Linked DNA regions of Homo sapiens: all the other regions are reported to be linked to region 1. Evidence: microRNA targets listed by miRTarBase, many of them from high-throughput screens and not tested one by one. Region 1 holds a microRNA gene; each other region holds the end of a gene's coding sequence.
What was found. Region 1 holds the annotated microRNA hsa-miR-671-5p (AGGAAGCCCUGGAGGGGCUGGAG, at 2,125-2,147, opposite strand). A microRNA usually pairs through its seed, bases 2 to 8, with sites in the 3' UTR of a target mRNA and lowers its output. Matches are read on the target gene's strand: a 7mer-m8 pairs with bases 2 to 8, a 7mer-A1 pairs with bases 2 to 7 and ends in A, and an 8mer does both.

Region 1 (3,252 bases):
CAAAAGGATCTACAACTGCATGATGATCTCTTCAAGAAGAGTGATCTCTCTCTCCCCAATTGTCCTGCTTCAGATTTTTGATTGTCCCCGGCTGAAGTTTTCTGAGATTCCCCAGCGCCTCACAGCCCTGCTATTGCCCCCTGACCCAATTGTCATCAACCATGTCATCAGGTGAGGTGGCCCCAGCTTGCTTCTCAGACCAGGGAATGATCTCGTTCCTGCCTTCCCTGCCCCTCCCTCTCCTCCCACTCCCATCTCTTCTCCCTCCCTGTTGGATCTGCCCCAGCCCCGGGGCCCTGGGGCCGTATGGGGGCATCGTGGACACGAAGGGCTGGACTTCCCTGGCAGCGTGGACCCTTCAGACCAGAAGAAGACGGCGTGCTATGACATTGACGTGGAGGTGGAGGAGCCATTAAAGGGGCAGATGAGCAGCTTCCTCCTATCCACGGCCAACCAGCAGGAGATCAGTGCTCTGGACAGTAAGGTGGGGCCCAAGCCCAGAGCTGGAGTGGGACATTAACCCAGAGATGATAGAGGAGACTTTTCTGAGACCAGGGTGTGGTTGCAGATGAGCAGTCTGGGTTAAATTAAAAAAAAAAAAAAAAAAGAGACCAGACTCTGGGCCAATGGGACACACATGGCCCGTCCATGCTGCTTGGAGCTGAACCTCATTCCAAGTTTAGTTCTGCCCATCCCCTCCTCCCCTGGGACTTCAGAGAAATCAGGGGCTCTGAGGGGTTGTCCTTCACAGAAGAAACCCCCTCTCCCTCCCCTTCCCACCCGCTTCCTTTCCCCTCGTCTCCCACATCACCAAAGCCAGGTGGAAAGCATCTATCTTTCTACCTGCAGATCCATGAGACGATTGAGTCCATAAACCAGCTCAAGATCCAGAGGGACTTCATGCTAAGCTTCTCCAGAGACCCCAAAGGCTATGTCCAAGACCTGCTCCGCTCCCAGAGCCGGGACCTCAAGGTGAAGAGGGAGACTCAGGGAGTACTGGAGTGGAAGACAAGCACAGCGGGAAAGAGAGTAAACGTTGTACTCCAGGGGCAGGTGAGGGGATTCAGGGCTCAGGGCTCACCCCACGCTCCCTCCCAGGTGATGACAGATGTAGCCGGCAACCCTGAAGAGGAGCGCCGGGCTGAGTTCTACCACCAGCCCTGGTCCCAGGAGGCCGTCAGTCGCTACTTCTACTGCAAGGTATGCAGGGACCCTTGCCCTGAGGCTTCCCCATCCTCAACTCCAAGAGAAACCTCCCTGTTCAGCTTGTGGGCAGCCCTCGCAGCTCCCCACAGTAAAGCTTCACCACGCTGCCTCACCATGCAATGGCCCTCCCTGCTCCCAGATGCTCTTTCAGGGCAGGCGGTGTCAGTAGGTGGGATTGTCCTGATCACTCACCAGAACACTGACACCTGCTCCTGTTCTCACTTCCTCTAAAGATCCAGCAGCGCAGGCAGGAGCTGGAGCAGTCGCTGGTTGTGCGCAACACCTAGGAGCCCAAAAATAAGCAGCACGACGGAACTTTCAGCCGTGTCCCGGGCCCCAGCATTTTGCCCCGGGCTCCAGCATCACTCCTCTGCCACCTTGGGGTGTGGGGCTGGATTAAAAGTCATTCATCTGACAGCAGCCGTGTGGTCATTGGAAACTGGGGAGGGGAGGGGGAGAGAAGGGGAAGGGAAGAAGGTGGGGAGGCAGTGGGTCCCTCGGGACGACTCCCCATTCCCTTCCCTTGGATTCTTCTCCTTACTCAATTTTCCCTAGACCTAAAAACAGTTTGGCAGAAGACATGTTTAATAACATTTTCATATTTAAAAAATACAGCAACAATTCTCTATCTGTCCACCATCTTGCCTTGCCCTTCCTGGGGCTGAGGCAGACAAAGGAAAGGTAATGAGGTTAGGGCCCCCAGGCGGGCTAAGTGCTATTGGCCTGCTCCTGCTCAAAGAGAGCCATAGCCAGCTGGGCACGGCCCCCTAGCCCCTCCAGGTTGCTGAGGCGGCAGCGGTGGTAGAGTTCTTCACTGAGCCGTGGGCTGCAGTCTCGCAGGGAGAACTTCTGCACCAGCCCTGGCTCTACGGCCCGAAAGAGGTGGAGCCCTGAGAACCGGAGGAAAACATCCATCACCTCCAGCCCCTCCAGGGCTTCCTCCTCTTCCTGGCCTGCCAGTTCACCTGCCAGCCGGGCTCGGGCCGCCAGGTAGTCAGCGTTGTAGAAGCAGCCCTCCGCAGAAGCCTGCCGGTCAAATCTCCCCCCTATAGGAGCCCCCCGGGAGGGGTCAGCACCAGGAGGGGAGGGGGGGTCAGGGCCAGCCCCCGGGGGCCCTGGGGGTGATCTCTGTGGTGACAGGGCAGGATTGAACTCCTGGAAATGGACTGGAAAGAAGGCCTGCCAGCCAGAGATGGCATTCATGCGACAGCGGTTGAGGACTTCGGGCCCAGGCCTTGTCCACACGGTGGTAAGGAAGAAGAGAGTGTCCACAGGGTGCTTCTTCGAGACCACGTCCATGAGTCGCACCTGGGAAGGGGCCTCTGCTCGCACAGCGAGCCAGGCCAGCCTCGTCCCAGGGTACCGTCGCTCTAACTCCGCTGCTGCAGCCTTCACCCCAAGAAATGGGTCTGGAGCTCCACGGCCACCTTCTCGTGGCCCGTAGACCAGCAACAGGGTGAGCAATGCATGTTCTCGTGGCTCCAGGACATTGGCTGCAAAGGCCTCGAGGAAAGCCGGGGCTGCAGCAGCTTCAGCCACCAGGAGTGGCAGCACCAGCTGCACTCGGGTGGCCTCAGTGACATAGGGCATAGGTAGGATTTCCACCCGGCTCAGTGGCCGCAGCAGGCTGACCCTGCGAGCCAGGGCCCGCCGGTGCCCACGCTGTGTCACACATTCCAACAGCAGGTCCAGGGTGTACTCCATGCCCCGTGCTGGGTCGAAGCGCCGATAGCCGTTGAGCAGTCGCTGCTTCTGGAAGCGCAGGCGGGGCTGATAGCGCCGATTGAGCTGCTCCAGGGCAGTCTCCAACGCATCACCCACGTCCGCCCTGCTAGCCCCCTGTAGTGGGCACTTGGGAGCCCCATCTGCACAGGAGAAGGTGTGCTGCTCTGTGAAGTAGTCCCAGCCCAGCACCTCAAAGCGAGAGTGTGGTGTGAAAGGAGCAGGGAGCCCAACGGGCCAGCTCAGCCCTGCCTCCCCTTCGGGGGTCAGCACGGTCAGGTTCCGGATCTGAGCCTGGGTTGGAGGGAATGCACCTCACATTAG
Region 2 (3,252 bases), not on the chromosome of region 1:
GAATTGGAATTAACTAGAGGCAACAAACTTCATCCAGATGTTGACAGTGACTGATGGGACTTGGCCGCAGTGGGGTGGGGGTGAAGGTGGAGAATAACACATTTTCCCTTGCACGAGGGAGTGTTGTGTTGCCTGGTGTTGGTAGGAGGATGTTCTTTCTACTGCCGTCACTGGGAAGTTTAAGTGTGTGCAGAAGGGTATGTCCTTTAGATATATGTGCACTTACATATTTGTGTCTGGCTGTTTTCCTCAAAGAGGAGGTTTCTCAAGGCAGGACCTGTGTCTGGCACAGGTAGTGTTTCTCCAGTGTCCCACAGGCAGCAAGAGTTTGATAATGAGTTAACACATGTGTGCTGTAACCCACCTCTGACTTTTCCCACCCACAGCTGTGCATGTCTGATAAACTGTGGGAACAGATAGTCCAGTCGACCTGCGACACCATCACTCCTGACGTGAGGGCCCTGGCGGAGGACACAGGCTGGAGACAGCTGTTCTTCACCAACAAGCTCCAGCTCCAGCGGCAGCTCCGCAAGAGGAAACAAAAATATGGAAACCTGAGAGAAAAGCAACCTTAGGCACACATTTTCCTACCAGCAGGGAGCTCAGGCATGGCTGTGTTTCTCTTCAGTGTCCAAATCTCTTCTGTCTCCTTTTCTTAAGAACTAAGAGGTTTTGTTGATGCGTGGAGCCATTTGAAACTCGTAGGGGATTTGCACACAAATGCAGCAGAGTCTGGCTCCCCAGTGCCTTGCTAGAGTCACCGTCATTCTGAGGTCAAATCATGGCCCGAGGACAAGGGCTGTAAGACAGGGAGCCCCATAGGCCATCATCATCCTTATCCCACACCCATTATAAAAGAGGTTTCTATTGTATATAAACAAACAATAAATGATTATTAGCAGGTTTTTATTAGACATCTATTTTATCTAGGCATTAGAAAGGGTAATGGGGCTTTTGAATTTTTTCCTGGCATTGTGTCGTCTGCGTCCAGCCATGAAGCTGGTGGCTGAGTGTCCCCACCAGGAACTGTGAAGGGCACGTACCACGGGAGGCACTCAGGGTGGGTGCAGCTGCCTTCCCAACTTTGTTCTGCTAAGTCCATATTCAGGGCCCTATCCTTGTGAGCCCAGGATGCCAGGGTCCATCCCCGCATGTAGACAGCTTCCGACCTGGTGCTGGAGCATGACTGGAGAAGTGCAGGCATCCTGCTTGCGGACCTTGCTCAAAGTACAACTTCCCAGGACTACTTCACATTGTTAAATAAACCTATAAACATTTCTTTTCTTTTCTTTTTTTTTTTTTTTTTGTATTTTCTTTTTAGTAGAGGTGGAGTTTCGCCATGTAGGCCAGGCTGGTCTTGAACTCCTGACCTCAAGTGATCTACCTGCTCTGGCTTCCAAAGTGCTGGGATTACAGGCATGAGCCACTATGTCTGGCTAAAACCTATAAACATTTCTTAGAGAAATGCTGTTCCCCAAAGGAATGTGAACAGCTACCACTTTTAACAAGGATATTTAAGAAAACAGACTATGAGTTAACTAAGTAAAAATGTAAATATGGTTTGCATGCTGTTAACATGGCAGAGGGGTAAAAAGAATACAGTCCTGGGGAGAAAGGTCACTTCACTGAGAAGGCTTACTTAAAAATGTTTTTCTCCCTGCACTTTCATGATTATTAAGTACCCCTAGAAAATGAACTCATAGCAGCAAATAATCTAATGACTCCTTTTAGGTTACAGAGCAAAGTAGCTTTCTACTTCCACATCACATTATAATATAGCCTTATAATTTCTTCTTTCCTGCAACCTTCACTTTCCTACCTAGGAAAACTCACCTCCGGTGCCAGAGAAACTTCCCAGGATGCACTAGGGCCCTGTGAACAATACAGAAGTTGTGGACTCTGGCTCTTTGTCCCACCTAAGTCCTTCCAGAAGGGCTCTACAGCATGGCTTAGTGACATTAAAAAAAAAAACTGAACCCATGTTAATATCAAACAAGATTTTAATCTTCATTCACACACCCTTAAAACCCAGTCACGGGGCTCCCCGGTGCCAGTTTGAGACCGTCAACCTAGCCCTCTCTGCTTCTCATTGCTGGAGGTACACACAGTCAAAAGTTTTCCGTGACTGTGAAATCCAGTGCAATCTGCTTCCCAGCAGATGAGGAGCCTGACGTGGTTATGTCTGGATTTAGTCCAAGAACAGAGCAAAGCTTTAATTGTCAAGAGACCCAGGCCTCATTCTCCACTTAGGAGAGTTTGCTAGGGCAGGTACAGGTAAAGGTAACCAGCAGGCAGCTGAGAGCAAGAAGGCACGTGCTCTGCAGAGCTCTAGCTGCCTTGGCTCTCCCTGAGCTCCCAGACTTCACTCATGGCCTAATTTTCAATGACAGAACGTAGGTTTTATCGTGAGGATGCAGACACAACCACAATTACGTATGTCAACATAACTTCATAAATATGTAACTGTAACTTATTGGTAACATCAGTGCAAGATGATTAAAGCTTCATGTGTAGTATTTTATCAACAAACAGATTCTGAAAGCTTATGGACATGCGCAATAGTTGATTCAGCTTCAATCAATAAGAACATAAATATGGCAATTTGAAAACACTATGTATATACCTACTCACATATATATTATACTTACGATATATACTTATATGTAGTATATAATAATATTACATATAAAAATGTTATAAAAATAAATGCTAAAGTAAATAAAAAAAGAGCCATTAATATGTTAACTATTGTTAAATAATAGCTAAAATAATACAGATTATTAAATTATTTTAATACTTACTTGCCATAATAATCTGAGTGCCTTATTACTTGATTACAATTGTTTTTGCCAAAATAGGAACAATATCATCAAGTGAACATCCTGTGTCTCCCCAGCATCCTCAGTGGTTGAAACACTTTGTCCCTCCCTCCCCCATCTCATTTTCCATGTGAGGTTCCATGTGACGATCCCATAACATGGTAATAGGCAGCGATGGTCTTGACTTTCTGCTTCTATTAACAGCTTTCATTTCTATTTCTGCTTTCATGTGGATGGATAAATCTGCTTTATGTCTTAACATTTCAGAGTGAAATGCCACACAATTTTTTTTTTTTTTTTTTTTTGAGGCAGAGTTTTGCTCTTTTCACCCAGGCTGGAGTGCAATGGTGCAATCTCAGTTCATGGAACCCTCCACCTCCTGGGTTCAAGTGATTCTCCTGCCTCAGTTTCCCGAGTAGCTGGGATTATAGGA
Region 3 (3,252 bases), not on the chromosome of region 1:
ATTGGTCATGTCACAAGCAAATGTGTCGAGAGCAAAGGCAGTCCGAGCCCTGAAGAACAACAGTAATGATATTGTAAATGCGATTATGGTAAGTGTTCAAGCCTTTGTTCCTTGACTCCCTCTGCCCTGACCAATTATGAGTGACTTTATTTTGTCTTGCTAAATATCAGCCAATTAAGGAACCTCATTCCAGAGCCTCTTCTGAGTTGCCGTATAGGTTTTAGTGGCCTAAATTCTCCTGATTTGCCTGTAAGAGTTTTAGTGACCTGAATTCTCCTGATTTGCCTATAAGAACCGCTAATTATCTTTTCTCTGTTACAGGAATTAACAATGTAACCATATGGAAGCAACTTTTTTTGGTGTCTCAAAGGAGTAACTGCAGCTTGGTTTGAAATTTGTACTGTTTCTATCATAAATAAAGTTATGGCTTCTTGTTGGATGAATTCAGTCGGTGACTGGTCTCTTCCCCGCCACCCCCCCACACCAAAAAAAAAAAAAACTTAAAAAGGTTCTAGTAATTTATTAATTACTCCTAAGGCCTCCCTCATTTGATAAGGTTTAGTGCCACAGATTTCCCACTTAGAATCTCAGACTTTATACCTCTTTTAAGAAGTTACTGGCCAGGCGTGGTGGCTCACGCCTGTAATCCTGGCACTTTGGGAGGCCAAGGAGGGGGCAGATCACGAGGTCAGGAGATTGAGACCATCCTGGCTAACACGTTGAAACCCCGTCTCCACTAAAAATACAAAAAATTAGCCGGGCGTGGTGGCGGGCACCTGTAGTCCCAGCTGCTTGGGAGGCTGAGGCAGGAGAATGGTGTGAACCTGGGAGGCAGAGCTTGCAGTGAGCCCAGATCACGCCACTGCACTCCAGCCTGGGCGACAGACAGAGCAAGACTCCATCTCAAAAAAAAAAAAAAAAAAAAAAAAGTTACTATACTAGGCTGTTAGGACCTTCTTAACTTAAGGAAATACAACTTGACTATAAAGTTTCTCATTTCTGACCAGGCGCGACGGCTCACACCTGTAATCCCAACACTTTGGGAGGCCAAGGCAGGTGGATCTCTTTAGCCCAGGAATTTGACACCAGCCTGGGAAACATGGCAAAACCCCGCCTCTACAAAAAATAGGATCACTGAGTAATCCCTGAGATCACACCACTGCACTCCAGCCTGGGCGACAGAGTGAGACACTGTCTCAAAAAAATAGTTTCTCATTTCCACTTTCTTTCCCAGATGTTAACTGTTAGCAGATCCCGATTCTTCTGTATCTAGTAATCAGCCCCTTCACTGAACTCCAATCTTTCTGAATGCACACTGGGGCTTTTGTGGCCTCTGAGGAGTTTACATTGGTTACATATCGACATGTAAGAGCTTGGTACAGGGTTGAAGAGAAAGTTGGAGGTACATGAAAAAGCTACCTCCTGAAGGGGAAGATTTTGAGTATATTGTAAACTTTCTGCTCTTAAGCATATTCTCTACAGACATTTTAATCTACAAAGTAGCTTCTGATTAGGACAGCCATAATTACATATTAGGACAATAAATGAAAACTAGGACTCTCCCAGGCTAACTAAAACATAACAGTTAGTTTACAGATAGCTACATAGGAATTCCAAGAAAAACTCAGTTTGGGTTGTCAGAGAATGGTTTGGAGGAAATCAAAGGGCTACAATTTAGAAATGGGAAAGTTACAAGTAAATGTAGAGGCAAGAATCCTGAAATGAACATGTGAAAATACACCTAGAAGGAATATGTTAGAATGGGAATAAATGTGGCTAACATCTAAAACTGGGCTTTAGAACTAAAGGAGTTAAGACATTTTTATAGAATTCAGTCTTTTGGTCTCCATAAAAAATGAGGCCGGCCGGGTACAGTGGCTCACACCTGTAATCCCACCAACTTGGGAGGCTGAGGCAGGCAGGGCAGGCGGGTCACAAGGTCAGGAGATCCAAACCATTCTGGCTAACACAGTGAAACCCCATCTCTACTAAAAATAACAACAAAAAAAAGGGCAGCGCGGTGGCTCATGCCTGTAATCCCAGCAGTTTGGGAGGCCGAGGCGGGTGGATCACGAGGTCAGGGGTTTGAGACCAGCCTGACCAACATGGTGAAACCCCGTCTCTACTAAAAACAGAAAAATTAGCTGGGCGTGGTGGCGGGCGCCTATAATCCCAGCTACTCAGGAGGCTAAGGCAGGAGAATTGCTTGAACCCGGGAGGCAGAGGTTGCAGTGAGTCAAGATCGCGCCACTACACTCCAGCCTGGGCGACAGCGAGACTCCGTCTCAAAAAAAAAAAAAAAAATACAAAAAAAATTAGCTGGGCATGGTGGCATGCGTCTGTAGTCCCAGCTACTCGGGAGGCTGAGGCAGGAGAATCGCTTGAACCCAGGAGGTAGAGGTTGCAGTGAGCCGAGATGGCACCATTGCACTCCAGCCTAGGTGACAAAGCAAGACTCCCATCTCAAAAAAAAAAAAAAAAAACAGAGGCCAAGGAGGGTGGCTTCTGCCTGAAATCCCAACACTTTGGGAGTACAGGCAGGAAGATCCTTTGAGCCCACGAGTTCAAAACCAGCTTGGGCAACATACAGAGACCTTGCCTCTACAAAAACTAAAAATACTAGCTAGGTGTGATATTGTGCACTTTGGTTCCAGCTACTAAGGAGGCTGAGGTGGGAGGATCACTTGAGCCTGCTCCCTTGACCCTGCTCCCTTGACCCTCGGTGGTCAGGGCTACAGTGAGCCATGATCGCGCCACTACATTCCAACCTGGGCCACAAGATGCCATCTCAAAAAAAAAAAGAAAAAAAAAGGCATTATTTTAGTAGATGTGAGTGAAAGCTGAGGACTAAGGAGTTTATGACTTTCTCAAAGCCACTAAAAACAGCAGGGCCTTTTGTTTCCCCCAGCTAGGAAGTAGTAGGCTGTACTGTGGGAGCACAAATAGAAATCTGAAGATTGGCTCAGAATGAAGACCTTTCATCTCATTTCAAAACAGTTGATTATTTGATGAACAAAATCTCATGAGAAAAAAGGCGCCTAACAGCCAATCTGAGTCAATCCAATAATTATTTCAGGAAGAAATTTAGATACTCATTCCCAATTTTTTTAAAAACAACTATCTTGTTCAAGACCCTTTTTGCATCACTGCAGTAGTGTTCACTACTTCCCACCTCAAGAATCTCACAACATCAGTTCCCCCTTTTCTTCTGCTATTAATTCCTACCTCTCAGTCTTTCTTATTTATTTAATT

Region 2: miRTarBase lists FBXO36 as a target of hsa-miR-671-5p. Seed matches in the 3' UTR shown: 8mer at 1,392-1,399.
Region 3: miRTarBase lists NACA as a target of hsa-miR-671-5p. The part of its 3' UTR that is shown has no 7-base or 8-base seed match.

Annotation. Positions count from the first base shown.
Region 1 is chr7:151,237,344-151,240,595 of GRCh38, reverse strand. It overlaps MIR671 (microRNA 671), which reads right to left and starts at 2,175; the gene lies at 2,058-2,175. It overlaps CHPF2 (chondroitin polymerizing factor 2), which reads right to left. Exons shown (of 4, transcript NM_019015.3): 4 at 1,774-3,222. The coding sequence ends at 1,915. SMARCD3 (SWI/SNF related BAF chromatin remodeling complex subunit D3) reads left to right here. Exons shown (of 13, transcript NM_001003801.2): 9 at 74-171; 10 at 349-484; 11 at 850-972; 12 at 1,099-1,200; 13 at 1,440-1,816. The coding sequence ends at 1,493. LOC124901779 (a long non-coding RNA gene) reads right to left here and starts at 935. Exons shown (of 2, transcript XR_007060596.1): 1 at 844-935; 2 at 1-577. RefSeq lists an enhancer at 1-1,045.
Region 2 is chr2:230,010,310-230,013,561 of GRCh38, forward strand. It overlaps FBXO36 (F-box protein 36), which reads left to right. Exons shown (of 4, transcript NM_174899.5): 4 at 387-2,810. The coding sequence ends at 575. Among named protein-coding and RNA genes, the nearest start is that of SLC16A14, 57 kb to the right of the region's middle.
Region 3 is chr12:56,709,622-56,712,873 of GRCh38, reverse strand. NACA (nascent polypeptide associated complex subunit alpha) reads left to right here. Exons shown (of 9, transcript NM_001365896.1): 8 at 1-88; 9 at 322-447. The coding sequence ends at 336. Among named protein-coding and RNA genes, the nearest start is that of NACA, 14 kb to the left of the region's middle.